Regions from separate parts of the Homo sapiens genome. Here region 2 is linked to region 1. Evidence: fine-mapped expression QTL. Tissue or cell type: fibroblasts. Region 1 holds a variant in brackets; the other region holds the start of a gene. All regions are shown on one strand. Distances are between the middles of the regions. Region 1 overlaps DGKB (diacylglycerol kinase beta). Region 2 holds the start of DGKB (diacylglycerol kinase beta).

The links.
Region 2: it holds the start of DGKB, and the variant in region 1 is fine-mapped to the expression of DGKB in fibroblasts (GTEx, PIP above 0.99).

Annotation. Positions count from the first base shown.
Region 1 is chr7:14,832,395-14,837,784 of GRCh38, forward strand. All of the region lies in intron 2 of DGKB (diacylglycerol kinase beta), which reads right to left. Among named protein-coding and RNA genes, the nearest start is that of DGKB, 68 kb to the right of the region's middle. The variant A/G (reference allele first, on the strand shown) is at 2,420.
Region 2 is chr7:14,900,407-14,905,796 of GRCh38, forward strand. It overlaps DGKB (diacylglycerol kinase beta), which reads right to left and starts at 2,345. Exons shown (of 26, transcript NM_001350709.2): 1 at 2,186-2,345.

The DNA of each region.
Region 1 (5,390 bases):
TATTTACACTGTTTACTTTAGTTATAATCCTTCCACTTTGTTTTCATGGTGAAATTATATAAAGAGTAGCTTACATGTGTTCTCTCTGTCTTTCCTGTTTTCCATCCATTTCATCTATTATTGTTTTTTAAAAAAATCCATATTAAAATCACCAGTGGCATTCTAAATGATAAAGACTCGGGATGCGTTTTGGTTATTATCTCAAGTTCAATCTCATTTTTTGAAAACATGTTTCTTCTTTGGATTGTGGAATACTTTCAATCACTTATTCTCTTCTTTCTTTCTGGTTACAATTTCTCAGTTGTTTTCATGGAGATCTCATCTTCCAACTGTCTTATAAATAAATCTTTCTAGAGTTTCATCTCCATCCTTCTCTCCTTGCTCAATCTGCTTCCACTAAAACATCTCATCTATGCCCATGATTTGATAACTACTCACAATGCAAAGGCACACCCATTCTATATGTCTGGCTCTGATTTCTTTCTTGAGCTCCAGATATGTATTTCCAAGTATCGAATTTATATCTCAATCTGATAACCTGTGAACTTAAGGTTCAATATGTCCAAAATCAAACCACTCTACTTTCCCTCTAAATTATTTCTTTTTGTTTTCCTTTCCTGGATTGGGTGAGCCACACTGACTTACTTCTAAAAGCTGAAATGCCCCATCCTTCTTCCTTAGTCTCCATATTCAGTTGGTGATTGAATTCGGTTCATTCTGCCTCTAGATACTCCCTGTAACATGTGCTTATCTCTCTGTTAACAATGCCTTAACCTTCATGGAACCCCACATATTCAATAGGCTGCCCTAGTAAAATAATCTCCTAATAGGTTTTTAGTCTCCTTTTCATCAAAGATACAATTTATTTACTTCTTTCTGAAATTTAAATCTTACAATTTTGCTATCTCCAGAATTAAAATCTTCAATATCTTCAGATATTTTACTACCTCCAAAATTAATATTGAAGATATTGATTTATGTTTATGTCTTTATGAAGATTTATGTTTGTTTTTATGTTTATGTTTGTGTTTTTATGAAGATTGATTTGTTAATAAATAGGTTCTTAATCATGTTTCAGGAATAGGAAAAGCTAGACTCCAGGATTTGGATTTTAACATCTCCACAAGGAAAGGGGAGAGGGGCTTGACTTCTTCTCAGGAGTGTATTCATTTCATTGTTAGGCAATGTTGATGGATAATATTTTATCAATGGCATCTAAAGACCCACTTTTTGTGACTATTGCTAAATTCTTCAGCCTTACCTTCAGTGCTTAGACTCATGCCCATGTACACACATGCATGACATGCATGCTCATACACAAATATGTCTATACACCAACACACACATCAAGTTCTTCCCTGATATGTAACAGTCATTCCTGCTTCTCCACATGCTCTGATAACTGCTTGGAGTTTCTTTTCTTCCCCCACCTCTACTCAATACTTTCTATTCAAATTAAAACCCCATTCCACTCTCAACTTCTATCCATATGCGCAGAGTTAAAATCTCTCCAAGAATCTTGCATACGTAACATTCAGAGAATGCATTTCATTGCTTTGTCATCATTTGCCACTGGATCTGTCTCTCCGAACAGGCTGCTGAATAATGAATACAGTTAAGTTCCTCTAGCTTGTGTACTCTATTTATTATTTACTGTGGCACTTCCTATAATAATGTGGAAAGTGGTAACTAAGGAAACTTGGAAAATTCTAGTGAATCACAACCTGTAAACCATCACTGAGTTAAGGATAAAGTATCAACTTAAGATACATAAGCCTTAGTGATAATTTTTGTTATAAATTGTTATAATAATATTACTAACAAAAATAAGAGCTATCATTTTATAGGTAGGGATTATTATCTTCAGTATAAACTGAGGGGATGAAATGAAAGTATAAAGAAATTGTGATGACTTGGCTAATGTCCCAAGGTAAATGGTAGGTTCTATTTTACTCCTGTGATAATGGCCAAATTAGTAGTTTTCACCAAATAGCTCAGTTCTCCCCTGGCACTGGGCAGATGGAAGAAATGCTACTCCCTTGAAGTTAAATATGGTCATGTGAATTGCTTAGGCCAAAGAAATATTAGCGTATCACTTGCAGGGAGAAGGTATCAGAGCCAGCACACAGTCACGAGTGCTCTCTCTCTCTCTCTTTCTCTCTCTGTCACAGCAACTGCCAATTTTTAAAGCTCATGGCTGCTCCATCTGACTGGGACTTCACTGTAGACAATGTGAGATGAAACCACTTGCTGACTCAGATTGGAAATGTAATATGAGCAAAAAATGAACTTCTGTTGTGTTAGCCCACTAAGACTTCGTACATTTTTCAGACATGGCATGATTTGGCTCACTTTGACCAACATTCCACAGATGCCATTACTTCAGTATCAATGTTTGCTTGACCATAAATTGGACTCA[A/G]ATGGATTTTTTGGGGGGAGGTCAAGTCTGAAAAGAGCTTACCCAAAGTTTTGCATCTTTAGGGTACGAAAATTATGGGAGTTTAGACGTTCATAGTTACTTTTTTCTTTTACTATTGCAAAACTTAGGTATTGAAAGATTTAAGACATATGGACACAGAGAAGCCACCAACAGGAAATTGTGTCTGAAGCAGTACAACAAATAGGAACCAGAGCCAGAGATGAGGCAAAAGAATATATGAAGCCAACATATATTCTAGAAATATAATCTGGGTCAGAGCCAGGAACTGCTGAGTTAATCAGTGTGAATCAGAAGAAAGAGTCAGAAATGAGAGACATGCACTACCTAAAACAGTTGCAGATTCAAGTTTCAGACCAAGTGTCAGGGTAAAGTCAAGACATTTCTGGTAAGTCAAAACATTTCAGATAAGTGTTTTAACTGAAAAGGCTTAAATATTTTAAAAGTCCACATTTCATATTCAACTGCCTCAGCCACCACTATCACAATCCTAATTATAACAGTAATATATTAAATTCCAAGCACTTCACATACATTTCCATATTTAATCAGCAAGGCAACTCCATGAGGAAACTGAAGTATACATCACAGCACTAGCCTTCAAACCCAGTTTTGTCTGACATCAAATTATGTGTTCTCAGACACTGCGAAATGGCCCTGTGCCATTTATCCTTCTGTCTCATACAAAGAGGGTAATTATCAATAAGTGGCTGGGCTTCCCAAAATAGAGCCAATCTAACACAGGGCTCAGGACAGAAGTAAAAGCTAATCTCAGCATGACAAACGGGCAAGAGGGCTAGCGTGTGATCTAAATTTGCCTAAAAATAAATTGACTACACACCTGTGAGGAGGTCAAGTCTCTCTCTCTCTCCCCTTTCAGGACCGAGATATCGTATTATCTGAATCCTGGATTCTAGCTTTTCCTATTTTGGAAACATGACTAAGAACCTGTTTATTAACATATCAATCTTCATGAAAAACATAAACAAATTATTCCTGTTTTGACCTTTGTTATCACTTATTGTGCCACAGTTCTGGTCCAGCTACTCTGCCATAAACAGCAATAATTTGTCTCCCTCTGAGGCTTACTGCGAGGATTAAATGAGTTAACACTTGTATACTATTTACAGTAAGGCACTGAAAATCCATTATTTAGTATGACGCTGATTATAGTCTCATTAAATCCTACAACAAGATTTTGAGGTGGGATTCTACTTTTTCAAGTGAGAAAGCTGAGGCTCAGGTAGTTTATGTTACATTACGAAGGCCATACCACTAATAAGTAGAAAACAGGGCTGGGATTCCACACCGTCAAATATTTGCCTGCAAAACCAAAGCTCTTTCCACTAAGTCACACCACATGCCTCACTGCAATGGAAGAAACTGCACACCAGGTCCAAACATTATGCACATTCGTCCTTATTGAAAAGAACAAATTCACTGTAATTTTGCAACTCCTCACAATGCCAGCTGCTATAAACTGTATGAAATTTATGAAAGTTTGGAAAGGTTCCCACCATAATAACATAGTATTTTTCGAAAATAATTTGCATGCTATATAACACACATTATATATAGCAAATAAAAAGCTAACCCTAAGTGACAATACGTGGGCAGATAATGAATCATTTGGAAATATCACGTAGATTTCACATAGAAAATATTGTTATCCATGAAAAGCCCAGGAGTTTCTTAACCCTTTGCTGTGACGTGGAACCACAGCAGAAAGCACCGACAGACCAATAATGTGATAAGCTTAATTCTCTAAAGGGCAGGAGTGAGAGCTTTCTATCCTATAACAACAGTTTGGATGACTTTATATCAAGAGTGAGGAAGAAAATTATACTCCTCTCCCACATATCAAGGGAAATGCTTCCCATGGAGTGACTCAGCCTGAAACCCTAAACCGGAGCACGGTCACAGCATGCTGTAGGCAGTCACAGCAGGCTCCGTATCAGCTGCCTTCGGCATTTGTAGGGACAACACAGAGCGGAGGCTGCCAATTACACCAGAAGCTTCTACCTTGTGAGAAGAGTCTAATCTAGTGGAAGAAAAACAGACACTGACTCTTCATGCTCCAAACTGTGGCTCTTTTCTACTTGATCATCAACAATATGTTCAAACAGCCAGAAGAACACACTCCCTCTCTAGTAAGATAATAATTGTAAACAGTCATATCACTAGCAATTTGCCAGGCACGGCTCTCATTACTTCATATATACTAATTCATACTTCATATATACTGATTCATTCAACTTAATACTTATAGCACTGGACATATTTTTTTCCATATAAAACACAGATATATTAAGTTACCCAAAGTCAGATATCTGAAGTATGGTAGGATCAGTATTTAAACACAAGCTGTCTGGTATGCTAGATACCTATCCAAGAATACTGTGCCAGTATCACCCTACTTATCCTTAATTATTTTTAAGAAAAGCCTAGCATTTAGGAGAACAATCATAGTTACAGGGTGCATTCTGGCAATTGTGGAGGAAATGTAAAATCAGATAACTTGAGACAATTATCTTTATGGTATTCTCTAGGTCCAACATTGAATGATTTGGTTTTGCTGGAATTGGTGTCCCATGAGCTCACTCATCTTGCCCAATAGTTCCACAGCCCCACCTTATTCCAAGAAAGCAAATAAAATACTTATTTGATATATACCAAATATAATCTTAGCATGTTGCAAATTTAACTTTAAATCAATAACTTGATTTTTTATACTTCTTTAATGTACATAAAGAAATTCTTATTAAAAGATACAAATCAAACTCAAGAAAGTGAATGCATTGTATCATTTTTCTAATAGAGTATGGAGGAATGTCACTTACCAATACTGCATTGCAACATGAAAAATCTAATCTTTAAAGCCCCCGATAAACTGATCATGCATATTGAACAGCATGAAAAATGAATGACTTCTATAATCTTCAGGATGATGTTT
Region 2 (5,390 bases), 68 kb after region 1:
AATACAGCTCTGTTCCTGAAGGCAGCCAGAAGAAACATCCAGGAGAGGATCATCTTGAAATGTCATTTCAAGCCTATAGATCACATCATAGTCGTTATCAGTAGGCAGAATTAGATTTCGCGATCAGCAGCTATCTTCATCTGGCTTGTCTGACTACAACTCTCCGTTCTTTCAATAGTGTGCAAGAAAAAGCATCAGTCATAGGATACTAGTTCAGACACTATCCCAGCAAAACTTACCAATGGTTTTAAATTGTTAAAACAATTTAAATAATTGTTTTATTACACAAATGATTTTTATAATCTTCCCAGTCATAACTTGAGCTTTGCTTACCAGTAGGACAAGAAAGTATGAAGCAAAGGCATTGCCACCGCTCAACTCCAACTACATAAGTTTCTAGATTTAAAAAAATTTTGTCAAATTTTTATCAGTGCTCTTAACCTAATTTTCTTCCTCTTTAGCTACATAAAGATTTCAGGTAATAATAGTTGACTCTAGAGTATTAGGGAACTGCTTGCAAATTTGCTCCAACCATATTCTTCTATTCTTCATATAGACTTTTCGTTTTCTTTCTCATTGCTGTCAAAAATTTTTAACCACCCTCATGTATGCACTATTGTAGCAAATATATTCCCTGCATTATATTTTACTCAGTGATTCACAAGGTCACATGTAGACTTTATGCACAGGGATACTATGTATGTGTGTGGCATGGATCGCCTATAACAAATTGGGCACTCCAACAATGCCAAAAAATATTAAGTAAGCCTTTATACCTGGAGATCCCCGTGATGAGTAGAAAATTAGCCAAGACTATTCCAATGACATTCTTGACGTGTTTTATTTTTGGTAAAAGCATGAAGATTTGGTGGATTAGAGAAAGAGTAGCACAATTTAAAACTGAAATTATAGGATAAGAGTAGTCCTTGGTTACCCATTTTCTAAAGACAGAGGATTTCAGAATTACTTTGTTTTTCACAATTGTTATTTCACAAATTTTGAAGCTTCTTCTCCTATGGAATATATGCTAGCCTATGGACGTATCCAGATTAAAATCTTACATTCTCTTTTAGGTAATTTCTGTTTTGTCAATAATTTTTCTTGGAGAAAAATGTACTAATACAGTGTTTTCTCCAATGATCCTCCAACTAAGTCTAACATTTTTGTGTAATATATGCTTTCTGTTTGAGGGATTTCCACCCCCCCCCACCCCCCACTGCCCCACCACCACTGTAAAAATCTGGTCAATGCAAGAGGACCTGGTTAGGTACCCCAACATTTTTAACATTAATTATTTCTGATTTATTTTCTAGAAAAGACCTTCAGTATTCTGCTTGCATTCATGTTTATTTGGTCATTTGCTTTACAATGGACTGGTCCTTGCTGACCTGTTTTTAAAAGAGTTGGTTATCTGCAATTTGAGCAACCAGTTGAAGTTGTTTTATAAAAGTTTTAAGCCTTCATTTTCTGCCAGTGAACACAATGCTGCTTGGTTTCTAAGTATAGAGCCATCTATGTAAAAATCGCCACTTTAAAATCACAAGAAAGAGACTGTTCAGCAAGTGGAGGAGATTATTGCAGCAGGAAGAAACTGAGGGGACCCTCCATGTGGCACCCACTGAAGAGTATTTGAATGTTTATCATATCATCAGTGTGGCCTAGGCTGTTGCCTAGCAGTTATCTAGAGACCTACTTCACGTTTTATTTTAATTTAATAAGGTAAATCGAAGACTTTTGTTTGCTTGCTTGCTTGTTTAGTTCACAGATTAGGAATAAATCTGGACTGGAACTTGTAACAATTAACTAGGGCATTTGAAAGTCCAAGCCAGCCTCTTTATGAATTACATTTTGAAAAGACAAGCTGCTATCTCATTGGTAACTTTCAGGAGACCACTCTTGGAATTAAATTTAGAAAACATTTATCAGTTATGTTGCCCAAAATCACAATGGACAGGGCACTTTCTGCATAGCTAATACACAAGCGGCATCCGCCTGCAAATCACAGAGCACCCCTACTATAGCATAACTAGGACAGGAGTCAGGGAGACGAACCGATTTAACATTTCATGGAGAATTCAAAGCTATGCTTCTCTAACTTTCCTCCCCATTTCTTCCCAGCTTCCCTTCCCCCGCACCACACACCCAGAAGCCACTCAATTTGCCAACCATGTCCAGTTTAACTTACTGCAGTGTGATGCAGGCGAAAGCTGAGCGCATCTCTGAAGCGAGAGCCACTGCTTTTCCGGAGAGGAACTGGGACTAGCCAGTTCTCAGGATCCTTTCCAATTCACACGCTCCCGGCACAGTAAGAAGGCTCCCACACAGCTCGGCTTCCCCAGAGGAGTGGAGCTTCAAGAACTCTGCTCACAGCATCCTCCTCCCCACTGCCACCCCCTTCCAGAACACCCGGCCCATTGGAACTAGTGTCTGAAAGATGGAAATCTACTTCCAGGCAGCAACACAGGCTGCCTGCAGTTCACCCGTCTCTGATCATTTGCAACTAAAAAACAGCGGAGGCTGAAAGACGTAGGTTTCCGGAGCCTGAAAGTCATCTTTGGCGTCCCCCTTCCCCACCTCTCACTCCTCCCACTTCATCCCCGCTCCTCTATCGCGTCCACCCCCAGTCCTCCAGACTCCCACTCAAGCTAGCTATCACAAATGATTATTTTATCATCCAAACCAGTAAGCAGCTGAAGGAAACAATTTGTCAGAGATGAAATACCTGTTGTCCATGACTAACGCTCTTCTTCAGTCTCTCTTAGTCCTTGATTTATGTCAAGACGCGTTGATATTGGAAGTCTGTGCAGTGTGTGTGTGTGTGTGTGTGTGTGTGTGTGTGTGTGTGTGTTGAGGAGGAGGCGATTTGCGCGGCTGCAAGCACCAGCCCTGCCTATCTCTGGCTGCCGCTTCTCCAGCTGCTATTGCTACTCTTGCTGATGGAGCTCAGGGGAAAATGAGACAGGGAGACAAGGCTATACAGCTGTTTAACTGCTGGTCCAGTTATAAGACAGGGGAGGAGACGGTGCAGGTGAGAGGCTGTTGAGACAGTGAGCTGGATTCACTGCAATTACTACCACTCACTATACATCTCAGGGAGGAAATATGATACCCGTCTCCCCTCTCCCTTCTACAACTGTAGTCCTTGGTGGGTCATTGTTCAGCAACCATCTGCCGAAGCCACTTCTACCAATTGTAGCAGCTGCAGACGCTCTTGCTGCATTCCGGCTTGGTAACCTCGGAGCAGGTGACTGGAGGATGGATGAAGTAGAAAGGCAGTTAAATATTGGGAGAAACTCTATGTATGTGTAACCAATCAGGGCACAGATAAAAATAACAATTTTGAGGCACGTGTGTAAAATAGTGTATTAGGGTAAGAAAAATGTAAGTAAGTCAATAATCAAGATTTTTGTGGACTGTGTACAAAACCAGACAGTTATTAAGCAGTGTGCTTACCAGCTTATACACGGGGTATCTTGACATAGAAGTCCCGTGGTTGCTCTTAACTTATCTATATAATATTCTCAATGATTTCAATGCATTAACATCTCTCTGTCAGCTACAGACTCTGGTAAAACCAACTTGATTCTGTCTTCTATTAACTTTCATTTGCTCTCCTTATTGGCTGCTCTCATTAATCTCCAACATATTCTCATAAAAAATATGACATTCGGCAGAACTTAGAAATGGAAGACGTTCTCAAATCCCCCAAAGAATAGAATACTTCTTAATTACTAGTAACATTTGCTCTAGTAATAGTCTGTCTTCACTTTCTTGTTCTGTAGATTGAGTAATCATGAACAACCCCTCCTAAATACACACACACACACACACATCACTTAATTGAATAGTACTTTTAATCCACTTTCAGCCTCCAGTTGTCTGAGCTAAAAATAAACTTAATTCCTTTTGATTTTATTTGTAATGCACGCCTTTAATTATTTCTGCCTCTGAGTACTTTTCATATTGGCCATATTTTTTCCCAGTTGTTAGGGCTTGTGTAATCAGGGTTAATCAGGGTTAAATTAAACAGAGGGGGAACACGGAAGAAAGAAAATATAAGAAAAGACCCAGAAGGAAGAAAATAACCCAAAAGGATTAAATAATACATCTTTCCCTGATGTGTTTATACTGCCTTTAGCTAAACAAAGACCAGTTAATGAGCAAAGCATTTATCAATTATCCAACAAATATCAATTTGCCAAAGCCAGCCTAACTTCAATTTTAACAGATTTTATCAGAGGCTAATATTTTGTTTTAAAAATCATATAATACCTTAAATGCGAATAGCATCCAGAATTTTTTAACGTCAAAATTCTAATTAAACATGATGCCAAATAGCTATTTTTCTCTTCATTTGTTGTCTGTCCATTAAATAATTATTGTATCACACAATTAATATTATTAACAGTCTGAAGAGTACCTTTTTTATACTTGTGTACACTGCAGTGTAAGGAAGTAGGCACAAGAAGTCTCTAGCACATAGAAATACATTTTGATACAAAAGGCCAACTTTATCCACAAATGGTATGATTTTAAACTTGCCCTGCTCAACAAATTCATCCCTTACTATAACTAGCAGGATCTTGCCATTTGTAGTTTAGCAGGGTTTTCTTTTTGATCTTTTTGGTTATTGTTTTTTGTTTTACCTTTACTCCCATTTTGAAATTAAATCATATTTAGGAAGAGCACTAACACTCTAAACATTATTGAGAGACATAATTTATTAGCTATCTTCATTATAAATAAGAAGGAGTCTAAACATCTGGTCTGGGTAGAGCTGGAAGAACTACAAGATGTTAAAATAATTGGTAATGAGTATTTAACATCCATCTTGTTAGTTTTTTTTTTTTTTTTTTTAACAGCTTATAGCATTACTAAGATTCACTTTAAGAAAAAACCACTCTCTTAAAACTACAAGGTTTGGTAATGGAGGAAGAAAATTTTCAGTTAAGGATTGGTGATTGAATCTTATTCCTGACTCATAACTCAAGATTTTCCATTTTGTGGTAAAACTTACAAATCACTCCCTTACAACACTGTGCCCATTTCTCCAAGATGCTTCTCTGCTCCCATCACTAGATTTTCAGAAACTTCATGGGAATCTGTTTATCATTCATCAATCTAAAAAATAAGAGAAAAATGAACTTGCTCTATACTCATTCCTCAACATAATCATCAATTTGTGAAAATATATAGAAACGAATCATATTAATTTTCATCTACATCTCCTTCATCATCAAAACAAGTATTCCCAAACTAAATTTTGTAATTTAATGATAGTCATTTACTGAAGAGAACCCAAAAGTTTGCAAACTGTACAACAGCAAAAGCAAGCCATGTTTGCTTAGTTCATTCATGCGTCTCTAGCATCTACCAAAGTGCTTAGAAAG